Homo sapiens: one gene and its partner. The protein of the gene in region 2 interacts with the protein of the main gene of each other region in a biochemical or structural test. Each region holds a gene or a part of one and is shown on either strand. Other genes may lie near its edges. The genes, in order: BTK and CPVL.

Region 1 (7,293 bases), on a different chromosome or scaffold from region 2:
AGAGTCACATACTGGGGCCTGTGGATGCATTTGGCCCACATGTGTGGGTTTTTTTTATGTTATATAATAATTAGCAAACCCTTAAAAAGAAACATTTCGCTTAAAAAAAAAAAAACCCTGGAATTTCCAGCTTCTCTTGAAAATCTACACCGTCTGGAAATACCAGGTCCACATTCTCACGAACCGCCTCCTTTCCTCTAGGCATGTACTCTCCATTTCCTGCAATCTCGATCCACTTCACTTCACTCTTACTTAACTTGCCTGGCCCCTGTAAGCATCAGAGTTTGCGCCCCTGTTTCTTTCAGTCAGGCCAAGGCTCAAATTGTCCTAGTCTCACTGGCAGAAAAGCAGAAAGCAAAAAAACTTACTTCTCATTCTCCCTTCTTTGTTTTTTGTTTGTTTTGTTTTGTTTTGTTTTGTTTTGAGATGGAGTCTCGCTCTGTTGCCCAGGCTAGAGTGCAATGGCACCATCTCGGCTCACTGCAAACTCCGCCTCCCAGATTCAAGCAATTCTCCTGCCTCAGCCTCCCAAGTAGCTGGGATCACAGGCGCCCAACACCACGCCCAGCTAATTTTTGTATTTTTAGTAGATGGGGTATCGCCATGTTGGCCAGGCTGGTCTTGAACTCTTGACCTCAGGTGATCCACCCACCTCGGCCTCCCAAAGTGTTGGGATTACAGGCGTGAGCCACTGCACCCAGCCTCTCCCTTAATTCTTTCAGCATATCAGTGAGGGAATGGGGTGGTGTGGAATTGCCCATGAGAATGCAATCGTTCTGTATGTCCTCAGTGCTTTACCTAGGACTACACAGCAGGTTGCTTTCCACGTGGTGGAAATGAATCAAAATTTCTTGGTGGCATCAACAGATTCCTATTAGGTGGGAAGGTGTCTGTAGTCGAAGGAGATGAAGCTTCCCTGGCTTCATTCTACTGGTCAGCAGAAGCTTTGTGCCTTTAACCTCTGTGCTGGGGACGGAGTCTCACTGGTCTCTGTTTGCACTACAGGCAGCTCGAAACTGTTTGGTAAACGATCAAGGAGTTGTTAAAGTATCTGATTTCGGCCTGTCCAGGTGAGTGTGGCTTTTTCATCTTTCCCTCCAGAAGTAAAAATAGCACAGTATGAAACATGGGTAGGTGTTACAGTTTTAATCCTCTCCTTTTCTTTTTTTTCTCATTCTAGCGTTTTCTGCCGATCTTTCTATTCTTTTTCTTCCTCTGAGTTATTTAAGCCACCTCTTTCATCCTTTTGTTTTATTGTCATATCCCTTTCCTTCCTTTCTCCCTTTATCTCTACCTCCTCTTTTTTAAATCTATTTCCCCAATACCTTATCTTGATCTATTAATCCTGATGACTTTACTCCATTCCTCCTTCTTTCTTAATCAGTCTAATTCCCAGTGACAACTGCAGATAAAAGGAAGGGAAGGAGAAGAGCAGAGAAAGGAAAGGTGGATAGAGAAGAGGAAGGGAGTACCTACTAGATCTTATTTCACTTCATCCTTCTTGTAACCATATTGTCAATCAGGAAAGCTCAATCAGATACAAAAACAGGAAATTCGTTAAAAGTAACGTTTGTAGAAGATACTAGTTGAGGAGGAGAGACTTTTGAGAAAGCCTGTGTGTGTTTGTGACACTCTTGTGACCGTGCCAAGAAAACGTAAGCAAATATCAAGCCTCCAAATCCTAATGCAACAAGTCCTGAATCCCTTGCAGGTATGTCCTGGATGATGAATACACAAGCTCAGTAGGCTCCAAATTTCCAGTCCGGTGGTCCCCACCGGAAGTCCTGATGTATAGCAAGTTCAGCAGCAAATCTGACATTTGGGCTTTTGGTAAGTGGATAAGATTACACAGATTATACAGCTCAAAGGATAAGAAATGCAATGGGAAAATTCACACTTTGCAACCTCCACAGAGATATTGTTCTTGCTTTCATTCTTCCAATCCTTGGGGAGTGCTTACTGTGTGTCAGCCACCACAGGGGTTTCTGAGGATGAAAACTAAACTGGACATGATCTCTGCCTTTTTAGAACTTAAACCATGTTAAGGAAAACAATTCATTCAGTTTTCAACAGCTTCTGAATACTGATTATGTACCAGGCACTCTGCCAGACCCTATAACTGCAAAGACAAATAAGATGCTGTCTCTCTTCTAGAGGAGTTAATAGTCTAGTACGACCTTGATCTCCATCTAGTGTGGTCAGTACTATAGCAGAAATTTGGGCAAAATATAAAAAGCACAGAGCGGGGAACCAACTGATTCTAATCTTTGAGGTTGATCTAGGAAGACTAGGACCCCTGCTATCCAAAAAGACTGCAAACCAATTTAATAATTTTTTTCACCTTCTAGGGGTTTTGATGTGGGAAATTTACTCCCTGGGGAAGATGCCATATGAGAGATTTACTAACAGTGAGACTGCTGAACACATTGCCCAAGGCCTACGTCTCTACAGGCCTCATCTGGCTTCAGAGAAGGTATATACCATCATGTACAGTTGCTGGCATGAGGTAAGTGCTTTATTAGGATCTCTTAAATTATTTCCTTGAATCTACTTGCCCATTTAGCTGGCCATTCAGCCACCAAAGACTGATAGCTGCACACATTCTTTTTTTTCCTTTTTTTTTTTTTTTAATTTGAGACAAGGTCTCGCTCTTTCACCCAGGTTGGAGTACAGTGGCGCGATCTTGGCTTACTGCAACCTTCGCCTCCCAGATTCAAGCGATTCTCATGTCTCAGCCTCCCAAGTAGCTGGGATTATAGGCGTGCACCACCACACCAAGCTAATTTTTTTTTTTTTTTTTGGTGACACAGTCTTGCTCTGTCACCCAGGCTGGAGTGCAGTGGCACGATTTTGGCTCACTGCAACCTCTGCCTCCTGGGTTCAAGTGATTCTCCTGCCTTAGCCTCCCGAGTAGCTGGGACTACAGGCACATGCCACCGTGCCCAGCTAATTTTTGCATTTTTAGTAGAGACAGCATTTCACCATGTTGGCCAGGCAGGTCTTGAACTCCTGACCTCAGGTGATCCACCCACCTCGGCCTCCCAAAGTGCTGGGATTACAGGCGTGAGCCACTGAGCCTGGCCAATTTTGTATTTTTAGTAGAGATGGCATTTCGCCATGTTGACCAGGCTGATCTCGAACTCCTGGCCTCAAGTGATCCGCCCACCTCGGCCTCCCAAAGTGCTGGGATTAGAGGCATCAACCACCACGCCAGGCCTTGCACACATTCTCTGACCTTGGCCTGCAACTTGATCATCTGATGGCCAGAGGCTTTCCCAGGCCCACTCCGATTCTCACTAGAGTGTCATTAGTACACTCCAATGCCAGCTCAGCTTTAGGGAGTGAGGTGTTGTGGGGCCATGTCATCTAGCATAAGCAGGCAGCCAGAGGCATTCAGACAAGTGAATGGGCATTACAAAAGAAAAGTCATGAAAGTTTGTTCATTCCTTTGTGTGTCATTGGCCCTTTCTTCTACTTTATTAGCTGCCAACCGTTTCTGGCTGAGGTCCTAAATGAGATTTTTTTTTTTTTTTTTTTGAGACCGAGTCTTTCTCTGTCGCCCAGGCTGGAGTGCAGTGGCGTGATCTCGGCTCACCGCAAGCCCCGCCTCCTGGGTTCACAGCATTCTCCTGCCTCAGCCTCTCGAGTAGCTGGGACTACAGGGGCCCGCCACCACGCCCGGCTAATTTTTTGTATTTTTAGTAGAGACAGGGTTTCACCGTGTTAGCCAAGATGGTCTCGATCTCCTGACCTTGTGATCCACCCGCCTCTGCCTCCCAAAGTGCTGGGATTACAGGCATGAGCCACAGCGCCCGGCTAAATGAGATTTTTTTTAAAACCTACTGCTTGAAAGGGAACTAAAACAGGTAGTGGGTTTTTTGTTTGCTTTGTTTTGTTTTGCTTTTTAATATGGTGCATCGTGGGGTATGTGGGTAGGTGTGGTATTTTGGAAATAAGGAAATCTGTCCTACTACTATTAAACTGCTTTGCTCCTCTTACCTCGAGTTCTTCCCAAGATGCCTTCTCTACTTTTCAGTAGATCCTTGGCAACCTAAATTTCTAGTAGGAAATAAATGCTCAACTCTTCAGAGTGTCCAACAAGTGCATATGTGAATCTGGAGCCTTCTTGGTGAGGTGAAAAGTGGGTATCTGGATCCGAGCATGGCTGGTTTCCCTCGAACAAATGACAGATCACAGAGAAAGTGCAGAAAGGGAGGACTCCTTCTTTCTTCTGTGTGATGCAGGATTAAGGGTGATTGGCTATGCTCCCTCCCAATCAGGACCTTCTTACTCTGCTAATTAAAAATGATTTCAGACAGGTACTTTATCCACAGCCTGTTTAAAGGAGTGGTCAAAATTGGATGCATATCAGAAACCCTAAGGAGCTCTTAAAAATGCAGATTACTGGCTGGGCATGGTGGCTCATGCCTGTAATCCCAGCAGTTTGGGAGGCCAAGGCAAGCGGATCACGTGGTCAGGAGATCTAGACCATTCTGGCCAACATGGTGAAACCCTGTCTCTACTAAAAATACAAAAATTAACCAGGCGTGGTGATGTGTGCCTGTAATCTCAGCTACTCAGGAGGCTGAGGCAGGAGAATGACTTGAACCCAGGAGGTGGAGGTTGCAGTGAGCCGAGATCCTGCCACTGCACTCTGGCCTGAGTGACAGAGCGAGACTGTGTCACAAAAAAAAATTCAGGTAACTGGGACTTTTCTCCAGAAATTCTGATTAGCTATGCCTGAAGTGGAACCCAGAAATCTCTTTTTAAACTTCCCAGGAAATTCTGATACTCAGCTAAGTTTAAGAATCACTGAGTCAAGGAATCAAGAAATTGATGACCATTGGTTCTAACAGATTGAGAGCATTCTGGCATGAATGTTCCCTGAACCACTAAATACCAAATACCTCGGGGGCTTATGGGCCATGGCCATCAAAAAGAACCTTAGTCGTAGGCCGGGCGCGGTGGCTCACGCCTGTAATCCCAGCACTTTGGGAGGCTGAGGCGGGGGAATTACCTTAGGTCAGGAATTCGAGACTAGTCTGACCAACATGGTGAAACCCGGTCTATACTAAAAATACGAAAATTAGCTGGGCGTGATGGCGTGCACCTGTAATCCCAGCTACCTGGGAGGCTGAGGCAGGAAAATCGCTTGAACCTGGGAGGTGGCAGTGAGCTGAGCTCACACCACTGCACTCCAGCCTGGACAACAGGGTGAGACTCTGTCTCAAAAAGAAAAAAAAAAAAAAACCTTAGTCTTTTTGTTACCAGTGGTAAAAAAAAAAAAAAAAAAAAAAAGGTCCCAGGTACTCAGAATCCCTGCTCAGTAATACAGCCTGTGGTTTTGAAATATTAATCACTAAAAATTATCACATGGGATTTCTGTTCTGCCAACCACTTGAACTTGTTTGGTAGCCATTTTTCACTTGAGGATCCAAAATAAGAATGTGTTGTATACAGTTACATAATGAACTTGCCCTCAATTTTGATCAGTGTGATTGTCAGTTTAATTTGCAAATTGTTCTTATCACACTAATAACCTGAGTTACTAAAGATGAAAAGTGCACAAAGACTTTATGGAGAGCTGCTATTTCTTTTTTTTTTTTTTTTCCTTTTGTAATCGACAGGGCATGCTACTGGGCATAGAGCATATATTTAATAAACATTTGCTGCTTACTCATTGCATTTCCCTTGAATTCTGGATTCTAGCCACTCTAACACTTTACTTTTTCTTTGGTTTTAGAAAGCAGATGAGCGTCCCACTTTCAAAATTCTTCTGAGCAATATTCTAGATGTCATGGATGAAGAATCCTGAGCTCGCCAATAAGCTTCTTGGTTCTACTTCTCTTCTCCACAAGCCCCAATTTCACTTTCTCAGAGGAAATCCCAAGCTTAGGAGCCCTGGAGCCTTTGTGCTCCCACTCAATACAAAAAGGCCCCTCTCTACATCTGGGAATGCACCTCTTCTTTGATTCCCTGGGATAGTGGCTTCTGAGCAAAGGCCAAGAAATTATTGTGCCTGAAATTTCCCGAGAGAATTAAGACAGACTGAATTTGCGATGAAAATATTTTTTAGGAGGGAGGATGTAAATAGCCGCACAAAGGGGTCCAACAGCTCTTTGAGTAGGCATTTGGTAGAGCTTGGGGGTGTGTGTGTGGGGGTGGACCGAATTTGGCAAGAATGAAATGGTGTCATAAAGATGGGAGGGGAGGGTGTTTTGATAAAATAAAATTACTAGAAAGCTTGAAAGTCTTTGGTATCTCTATTAATCATGCAGCCTCCCTGAAGCGCCCTATCTCAGTATTCCAGAAAGCTGCTGTGTAGCATTAGTTTGGCATATTCCTACACTGAGAACTCGACAGGATCCTCCAGGTTTAAGCCCTCTTGTTAACTCCTGCCTCTGAATCAAAGATGCATTAAGCAAAAACAGTGCCTGTCACAGCACGCATGCAATGTTATTTGAATGAATCTGAAAGTTGGGCACAAACTGCCATAGCCTCATTTCCCTACGTCGGGAGAGGAAAACTCCATCAAAAAACGAAAGCCAGGGGCCCAGGATAGCCAACTAATCGACCCAGTCAACTAACTGACCCAGTGCACAACTCTGGTAGCTCAGAAAACGCGGGCTAATTTGGAAGTGGACAGGGGCGGAGCTGTGGGGCCAGCACGGAATGGATCACGTGGTCTGAAGTAACTTCCTTTTCTCCTTTCTTTTCTTTTTGGAGTAACATCTCAACGGCACCTCGGCTCTGGGCTGTAAGCCCTGCGATCTCAAGGCGCAAGGCTGGGCGCAACGGCAGGGTTGCGGGGTTACGGGATTGCGGGGTCCGGGGAGTGGAACCCGCCGACTCCGGGAACGAAGCACCGGCGCCAAGGTGTGGGAGGCGGCGGGGTGGAGTTGGACGCCTGCCTCGCGCCGACGCAGTGCACTCACGGGGGCGGTCCCAGAGGCAGCTAGCTGTGGTTCCGGTTCCGTCGCGGAGACACGTGAAGGTCGGTGCGGAGTTCGTCTCTGCAAGCTTGGTCGCCCTGGGATGGATTCCTCCTCCTCTTCCTCCGCGGCGGGTTTGGGTGCAGTGGACCCGCAGTTGCAGCATTTCATCGAGGTAGAGACTCAAAAGCAGCGCTTCCAGCAGCTGGTGCACCAGATGACTGAACTTTGTTGGGTGAGGAGCCTGGGGCTGGGACCTGAACACTGTACCTACTTTCCCTCTGTCCTTGTACCGCGGGACTCGCGACAACGTCGGGGATTCGGGGTGGGGGGCGGGCACCTGGCAGCAACCCTTGATTTT
Region 2 (9,391 bases):
TCTCATCTCTGACATTATTAGTGAGGTGTCCTCGGCAAGTTGCTTAAACTCATGTGTCTCAGTTTTCTCACCCATAAAATTAGAATAATAATACCTTATCTGATAAGAGACCTAAATTTGTACTTGATAGATTGTTTTTAACATGTGCTGACTTCATTTCTTTGAATTCTTTTGTAAGAACTCCTTACAACTTAATATCATCATCAACAACCCCCCTCCATGTCTTCAACCTCTTCTGTGACTATTTTCTTCTCTTCATCTTCTTGCTTTGCCAGAAACCTGGCTCTCCCCTGATGCTGCAGTCCCTGTGGTCCTCTTGAGTGGGGGCTGTTCTCTCTCTTAGCTTGTCTGTATCACTTGGTTCATAGGTGGAGTAGGTGTCTTCCTTGCTCATCATGTGACTTTCAGATCATGTTCCCTGCCTCCTCCTAAAGCATTGAGCTTTGACTCTCCTGTCCTCAGACAGGGCCTCTGACCACTTCCAACTGTGTCTGCCTACCAACCCCTGGTTACTCCCTCTCATTTGAATAGCTGAGCTCCTTCCTCCCTGTCACTCTCTGCAGCATTATTCTTGTCATAATTCCTGGTAACTGCAGGATCCACATTGACGATCCTTTTGGGACCTGGTCCTTGGTGCCTCAGCCTCCTCTTTTTCAATGATCTTGTTCTCCTCCTCATCTTAGCTGCTGATTCTCATACCCTAAAATGCTGGCAGCTGATCCACAATCACACATTCAAACATCTTTCTCCAACTACCACCTCCTGTCCGAATCTCTTCTGCTAATGTACTGATCTTACAGCCCTGCAACCTCACTACCTTTCAATCCATTGATCCTCCTGCCTCTCCACTATCTCTAACCCCCTCAAGTCTCCATTTCTCTAATTACCTGTCTTCAACCCAGGGTCAGTCATTCCATACATTTCCAAGCCCAAAGCTCTTTTGCATTTCTTCCAACTCCTTTGGCTGAACCACAGCCCTGGCTCAATCTGCCTCTCTGTCAGGCTGTGCTTGTCTCCACACAGCTGACAATGGCTGGAGGAAAGCATGCAACCATGCTGACTGCTCTCCCGCTCAGCTGGTGACTGGGTTTTTTAATGTCAGCCCAAAGATAACTTCCACCAGCTCCAGGAACCTGCATCTGCACCATATCCTGCGTCTTCTCTCCATGTCATCTGGTGAGCAGTTCATGATCCATGTTAAGGCACCCTTCCCACAAGGCTTACTCCCATAGGCAAGGCCTTTGAGCTTACTGTGTCCTCTGCCTGGAACCTTCCTTCCCCTAGATGTCTGCATGGCTCTATTCCTCTCATCCAATATGTCTTTACTCAAATGCCACCTTCTAAGTGAGGTCCTCTGTGACCTCCTCTCTACATTGTCCCATACACACATGCACACACATGACACTTCCTACTCCTCTTTAGTTTTCTCCTTGTCATTCCCTAACATACTCAAGAGTTTATCACTGTCTACCATATGATATAATTTACTTAGAAATGCTTGTTGTCCCCCACCAGAATAAAAGCTCCATGGGGGAGGACCATTGGTCTGTTTTGTTGATGGCCATTTCTCCAGTGCCATGACAGTGTCTAGCACAGAGAATATGCACAATAAGTGGGCGCTGGATGAAACAATAAAGGAATGAAAAAGTTGTTGAATAAATGAAATGACAAATGTCTGTACATTTTTATCCACACTGATGTTTTCTTTCTTTCTTTCTTTCTCCCTCTCTCCCAACCTAGATACTGGATAAACTACTAGATGGCGACTTAACAAGTGATCCTTCTTACTTCCAGAATGTTACAGGATGTAGTAATTACTATAACTTTTTGCGGTGCACGGTAATGACATTTTAAAAACCATAATAATGTTTGCTTAAAACTTTTGGCAAAACCGAACTTCCTTTGATTTGGGAAATATTATAGATGACTTTATACTAGACCAACATGTCCAAACTGTACCGCGTGATGTGGTCTACTAACCCATAGAATCTTTTCCTCATCAGTGTTGTATACGTTATAATCTGACCACTGAGAATGTGTGATATTTCAGATAACTCAAAACAACTTCTGATGAACATGATTTCCCCCAAGTAGAGCTTGTTATAGAGGCACTTTTGTGAAGGACACAGGCTGGGATTGGAGTTCTGGGTCTCAGGTCCCAGAGCTTCAAGTCTGTTTACGAGTCTCTTGAAAATGCCCACATTCTTTGTTCTGTACTTAAGACGCTTGGATAATCAAAACTGCCAAAGCCTTAATGAAAATATTTGCTTTGTCTTACTTTTAAGATGTTTAATGCATTTAGTATGGCCCTCACTTCAAGCCTTCTGGAATATTTCTCAAAGTATTCAAGTAGTTTGTTTCATAAAAGTAGGCCAAAGTTGATATCTTTTGTGTAGAATTAGTCAAACAGAAGGAGCCAAAGTAGGTGTTTGAATTTGTATAATCTTTGTCTAATGCTTATGACAATGCATTCTGTTTTTAAAATTGCCTGATTTATGAACTAGTTTGTAAATAAAGTATAACGTTAGTTTCAGTGGAATTCGCCAATGCTGCAGTTTTGGATTTAGATTCTACTAAGAGAAAAACATGTGGTAGACAAGACAGAAACAAAATTTGTGATGATACCTTTTTTTCTTTACAACAATATATTCACAGTTAGTAAAAATTGTTGATGAAGCACAAAGTTGTCAAACTCAAACTTTAACAGTTTTTTTAATCCTTGTGTAACTGTTTTTTTTTTAAAGCATTTACTCCTTTCTTTCAGTATAATGATTATTACAGAGACTTTATTGCAGTTTTTTTTTTAATAAGCTTCATGGACAACTTTTCTTCTGTCTTGTGTCCTTCATAAAGTATCATCTCTTTTCACATTTGACATATTTTCCCCTTTATTATAGTCAATCCAATTTTGTGTGTGTGTGCGGTTTTTTTTATTTTTTAATTTTATTATTATTATACTTTAAGTTTTAGGGTACATGTGCACAACGTGCAGGTTTGTTACATATGTATACACATGGACACAGGATGGGGAACATCACACACCGGGGACTGTTGTGGGGTGGGGGTAGGGGGGAGGGATAGCATTAGGAGATATACCTGATGCTAAATGACGAGTTAATAAGTGCAGCACACCAACATGGCACATGTATACATGTGTGTGGTTTTAATAAACAGCAGAACACAGAAAAGAAATTCTTAGCTTTAAATCCAGCACACCACCAACCTGGCCCTTGTGATCCATTTGACCTTCTTTCCAAAGAGCCACCAACAAGGAGTGAATTGATTTTGATAATCTCATCTCTTTTGTTTTCTCTCTCTTTGCCTCTAGTGGGGTTGCTAATGGGAGTCACAGATTGCAAAAGATTAGTTTCTGCAAAGGAAAATCCTGTATTTGCAAATTGGGTATTTTAAGAGTATTTTAAGGGTATTTCAGATTTCTAATTAGTAAAAAGATTCCACCTAAATTATCTCAAAACCTCCGAGTTAAAATTTCAAGAATGGCGACAAGTTAATAGTCCCGTCACGTTTCTCCATGTTGTATGTTATGAGAAATTCACAGCTTTTCCCAACATACTGTTCCTGCCACCAATCATGTTCCCTATGTCTTTCCAATGCCCCTTCTGCCAGGAACCTGAGGATCAGCTTTACTATGTGAAATTTTTGTCACTCCCAGAGGTGAGACAAGCCATCCACGTGGGGAATCAGACTTTTAATGATGGAACTATAGTTGAAAAGTACTTGCGAGAAGATACAGTACAGTCAGTTAAGCCATGGTTAACTGAAATCATGAATAATTATAAGGTAAGAGAGCTACTTCAGTTACTATTTTAGGAACTTTCAGATTACCCAGAGCAGAAGTGATTTGTAATTTGAGTCCTGCCTTTTTTTTTTTTTTAACTTTTATGATGTGTCATTAGCATAAATAACAGCCCCTTTCTTTGTTTGATTCCAATTCAAAGTTTTATATTGTTCCTTTTAATTTAACCACTTTTGCCGTTGTGGTGACTTATACCTGTAATCCCAGTGCTTTGGGAGCCTGAGGCGGGTGGATCACCTGAGGTCAAGATTTTGAGACCAGCCTGGCCAACATGGTGAAACCTTCTCTCTACTAAAAAATACAAAAACTAGCTGGACATGGTGGCGGGTGCCTGTAATCCCAGCTACTTGGGAGGTTGAGGCGTGAGAATCACTTGAACCCGGGAGGCAGAGGTTGCAGTGAGCCAAGATCGCAACATTGCACTCCAGCCTGGGCAACAGAGCAAAAACTCTGTCTCAAAAAAATAAAAATAAAATAAAATAATTTAACCACTTTCCCCTGATTATTCCTTAAAATGAAATTCCCTTTGGCACACACCACTTCTCATCCTTTCTTGAGAAAGGAAGAGTTGCAGAGCCAAAAAGATGACTGGCCGTGTGTAAGAGCCAGATTTCTCTTATGTGTTGCTTTGTTACATGAATCCCAATGACGTCAGGGATAAATGAAATCAACTGGTTATTCTGAAAATGCATTTTGCCTAATGGTTGTATTCATTCACTTTACCCAATCACAGTGTTTTGAGTCTCTCCTTAGGGTGTGAGGTTGAAATGATGAATGAGAAAGGGTCCCTGTTTGGAAGTAGGTCAAGTCAAGCCATTGTGCTGTCTGGTTGAAATGCTCTGCCTTTGCTGCCAGTGGAGGTGCCAGTGGAGAGTGAGGTCACAGAAAAGGAGCCCTGGAGGTTCAGGCAAAGAAGACATGGGCCCTGGAACTCCCACTGGGAAGGAGGACACCAAGAGCAAATGACATGGGGAAAGTCAGCCTGTGTATTATTTCTTTCCTGGTACTACGCTCTCAGCTCCTCCTCTGGTCCTCCAGTGCTGTTAGCCTTTGCCCAAGGGATCGTCTCTAGGGCAACTCCGAAGGATGCCTGTACTGATGACTGGGGAGACCACCACTGAGTGATCCACTTCCTCCCTATATCCTGTTTTGAATGAACAAAAAACAGGGCAGTCGGCAGCCCATAGGATTTTTGTATGAATTAGAATAAAGGCATCCTCTCCTCAAGATACTTTATTTCGATCTTTCAGAAATTGTCCTGATATACTGCCTTAGTTAAAACCAGACTCTTTACTGCCATTTGCTGGCATGCTGAATATTCATTTCTACAATGTGTATATTAGGAATGGTGTGTCTTAGGATTGTTCAGTGCACAATCTGCAATACTATCCAGGCAGTCCCTGGCCAATGCACCCTAACTAGACTGTGGTTTAGAATATGCCAGACCTAGGAGGCCCATTTCTGGGTCCTGCTTCTAGTACAGTGTTGGACACGTAACCATTGTTGAAAATAGTTTAAGACCAATTATATGCCAAGTCTACAAACCCATTATAAACCTGCAAAACTTGATGAAATACTTACTTTCTTGGAAAGAAAGAGTCTAACTAGGTCAGGCCAGCATTTCAGCCATCCTTGTGTTTGGTTTTCTTGGGGACATGTAGTGGCCCTTAGTGCTTGCTGCTTCAAGACTTCTCAGAGGACCTCCAGAAGGCACTGCTGTTTGTCCTCTCCTCTGAGCTCTCAGAACGCGTTGTCTTTACCCCCATAGGTGTACATGGCACACTCTAACGTGCAGACTCTCAGTCTGACACCCATACCACCACCAGCCTGGAGCAGATGTCAGGAATGAATGAATGATTAGTGCTGTATCAAAAATATATCTATAAACCTGTCCATAATCCATTAGGTGCTTATTATCCACAAATTTATTAAACCAAAAAGAGGTTAGCGTTCATGTCTTAAAGATGATGTTCTGTAATGTGATGTTAAGGAATGGAACGAGTGAATTTTTTTGAGAGGAGAGCAGATAAGTTTGATATGTGTTATTTGTGCCCTTGGGAGATATATTTTCTCACTGTACACACTTTTTTTTTTTTTTTTTGAGATAGAGTTTTGCTCTTGTTGCCCAGCTGTAGTGCAATGGTGCGACTGGCTCACTGCAACCTCCACCTCCTGGGTTCAAGCAATTCTCCTGCCTCAGCCTCTCAAGTAGCTGGGATTATAGGCATGTGCCACCATGCCCAGCTAATTTTGTATTTTTAATAGAGATGAGTTTTCTCCGTGTTGGTCAGATTGGTCTCAAACTTCTGACCTCAGGTGATCCGCCCACCTCGGCCTCCCAAAGTGCTAGGATTGCAGGCATGAACCACCGCACCTGGCCTCACTGTACAAATTTAACTAGAATATGATTCCTTTCTCAGCCATGTGAGGGTAAGGTGGGACAAACAGCTTACCTGATGACATAAACTCTCCTTATGTTTTGACTGATAAAGGAGAATATATTGATTAGAGGTGATCCTGCATTTTGATATTTAAACTTCTCTGTCCCTCTTGCCCATGTATCCTAAACTTACCACTATGAATTCCAATAAAATCAAAATCCAGTATTTTCTAAACTTTTCTTTTCTTTTTTGAGACAGAGTTTCACTCTGTTGCTCAGGCTGGAATGCAGTGGCACGATCTCGGCTCACTGCAACCTCCACATCCCGGGTTCAAGTGATTCTCCTGCCTCAGCCTCCTGAGTAGCTGAGATTACAGGCACATGCCACCATGCCTGGCTAATTTTTTTTCCGTATTTTTAGTAGAGACAGGGTTTCACCATGTTGCCCAGGCTGATTTCAAACTCCTGACCTCAGGTGATCCACCCGCCTCGGCCTCCCAAAGTGCTGGGATTACAGGTGTGAGCCACCGTGTCTGGCATAAACTTTTCAACTCTGAATCGGTTGCCAGAAAAAGAAAAGAGTTTAGTGGTATAGATAAACCATATTTCCATAAAGAAACAGAACAAAATATGCCACCAAAAAGTGGCTGCTGCTAAAACAGACAGCATGTTCACTCACGCAGCTGGCAAAGCGCTTGGGATAGTGATTATCTTTGGCTTGTCTGTTAATGATGTTGAACCTCAGTGTTCAGAACGGGAATCAGAACAACCTAGGTTGGCTTAAAACGTTAGTACCATTAAAGTCATATTTATGTAAGACTCGGTACTAATTTGTCATAGAAAATAGCATGCCTGTTTCTATTCATAGGAACTAGAGGTCTTTTTCCAGTACTGGGTTCATTTTGGCCAATGTGGAGCATCTCTGATGGTTGAAGGAAGACCTTCCTGGGTTTCTGGAATTACGTTTTCATGTAGTTTCTGTATAAAAATTAGCTTCTCTGTAAACTACGTTAGTTTCTATGTAAGCTACGTGAAAACATAATCCTTTTCTTACAGTGATATACAGGAGATGCATACTCAAAAGTCATTTTCCTTTCAGTAATTTCAGATGTTTGGGTGGTAAATTGAAATATCATATTGGCAGTTTCAAAAATAACTAGAAAGAGAAACAATCTGTTGGGCTATTTGAATTCTTTATGACTGAATGAAGTCAAAACATGATCAGGACTTTTAGGAGTTAGCTGGTTAATAGAGTATGGTGGTTATGAACATGTTCTTAAGTTGCATATCTTGAGTTTGAGCTCTGGTTACACCAGTCACTGGCTATGCTCCTTTGGGAGAGGAAACTTAAACTCTCTGCGCTTTGGCTTCCTTGTCTATAAAACAGGAATAAAAACAGTATTTATGTGTGAGTTTCTGTGAGGTTTAAATGAGATTATATATGTAAACACACTTAGAAGAGTGCCTGATGGTTAGAAGGTGCTTATTTATATATATATAAGCTATTACCAAAAATGTTCAACAAATTTTGTGAAAGTCTTTAAGATCTTGCTACATTCAAAAGTTATACAAGAAACCCTGGAAAACACAAAAATAAAAAAGAATGGACAGGCTTCCAGTTTCCATTCCAGTGTGTAAGAAGCTTAGAAGTCTCCACTCCATTGTAACAACAGTAAAAAGCCAAACAAACTGAAATATAATCAAGAACTCTTTTTAGATTTGTTGAAACTGAGGTCACAGGGCAAATTGCTGCCCTCCAAAATTAGAGAGAGAGATGAATATAGGGAGTCAAAACTTAACAGGAGCAAACCTGTAAGTAGAACCCTCCATGGAAACAAATGGTGAGGAAGGGAAACCTGAACAGTAATTGGTAAATTACTAGAGGCTCCATAGGGACAAGTCTGAGAGTTTAAAACACCATGGGTGGGGAGAGGACTCAGCCAAAGGTCACTTGTAAATGACCTTTATTATGTTGAGGGACTTTTCTTGTATACCCAGACTGTTGAGTGTTTTTATCAAGAAAGGATGTTGGATTTTGTTGAATACTTTTTGTGTCAATTGAGATGATCATGTGGTTTTGTCTTTCAGTCTGTGATGTGTCACTTTGATTAACGTACCTATGTTAAACCAGTCTTGCATGCTAAGGGTAAATCCCACTTGATCATGCTGTAGAATCTTTTTGGTGTATTGTTGAATTTGGATTGCTAATATTTTATCGATAATTTTTGCATGAATGTCAGAGTTACAGCCTTGCAGTTTTCTTTTTTCTTATGATATCTTTGCCTGGCTTAGGAATCAAGATAATACTTGCCAAAAAATCTATGATTAATATGCTAAGGATTTTAATGGAAAAAGTAGACAACCTGCAAGAACAGATGGATATTGAAAATAGAGATATGGAGATTATAAGAATCAAAAGGAACTGTTAGAGATCAAAAACACTGTAACAGAGATAAAGAATGTCTTTGGTGGGCTCACTAGTAGACTGGACACAGCTGAGCTAAGAGTAGCATGAGGATGTAATAAATAAAAGCTTCCAAAACTGAAAAGTAAAGAGAACAAAGACTTAAAAAAATTTTTTTTGAATAGCCTTAACTGTGGGACAACTACAAAAGATGTAACATACACATAAAGGGAATACCAGAACAAGAAGAAAGAGAAGGAAATGGAAGCAATATTTAAAGCAATAATGATTGCAAACTTTCCCAGATTAATGTAAAACATCAAAGCACAGATTCCAGAAGCTCAGAAAACATGGAGTCAGATAAATGCCAAAACAAAATAATCAAGAAAAGGAGGCAAGTCATATGGAAGCTTCAAAAAAATCAAAGATAAAGAAAAAAAGTCTCAAAAGAAGCCAAAGGGGAGAAAAACCTTACCTATAGAGAAGCAAAGGTAAGAATTACATCTAGGTTCTCCTCAGAAATCATGCCAACAAGAAGAGCATGGAGTGAAATATTTAAAGTGTTGAGAGAATAAAACCCACCAACTTAGAATTCTGCACCTTGCAAAAGTATTCCTCAAAAGTGAAAGAGAAATAAAGACTTTCTCAGACAAACAAAAATTGAGGGAATTTGTTGCTAGTAGACCTGCTTTGTAAGAAATGTTAAAGTAAGTTTTCAAAGAGAAGATAAGTGATATAGGTCAGAAACTCACATCTATATAAAGAGAAGAAGAGCATTGGATAATGATTA

The links.
Region 1: the proteins of CPVL (region 2) and BTK form a complex in vitro, tested with the Homo sapiens proteins (one study listed by BioGRID).

What each region holds. Positions count from the first base shown.
Region 1 is NC_000023.11:101,348,407-101,355,699, reverse strand, and holds the end of BTK (tyrosine-protein kinase BTK), read left to right. Parts: intron 1-1,005; coding exon 1,006-1,070; intron 1,071-1,711; coding exon 1,712-1,830; intron 1,831-2,348; coding exon 2,349-2,506; intron 2,507-5,743; coding exon 5,744-5,815; 3' UTR 5,816-6,250; downstream 6,251-7,293. Other genes in the region: TIMM8A (mitochondrial import inner membrane translocase subunit Tim8 A), read left to right, coding at 7,036-7,167. UniProt on the Homo sapiens protein: Non-receptor tyrosine kinase indispensable for B lymphocyte development, differentiation and signaling. Binding of antigen to the B-cell antigen receptor (BCR) triggers signaling that ultimately leads to B-cell activation.
Region 2 is NC_000007.14:29,058,471-29,067,861, reverse strand, and holds part of CPVL (probable serine carboxypeptidase CPVL isoform b precursor), read left to right. Parts: intron 1-1,740; coding exon 1,741-1,839; intron 1,840-3,627; coding exon 3,628-3,801; intron 3,802-9,391. UniProt on the Homo sapiens protein: May be involved in the digestion of phagocytosed particles in the lysosome, participation in an inflammatory protease cascade, and trimming of peptides for antigen presentation.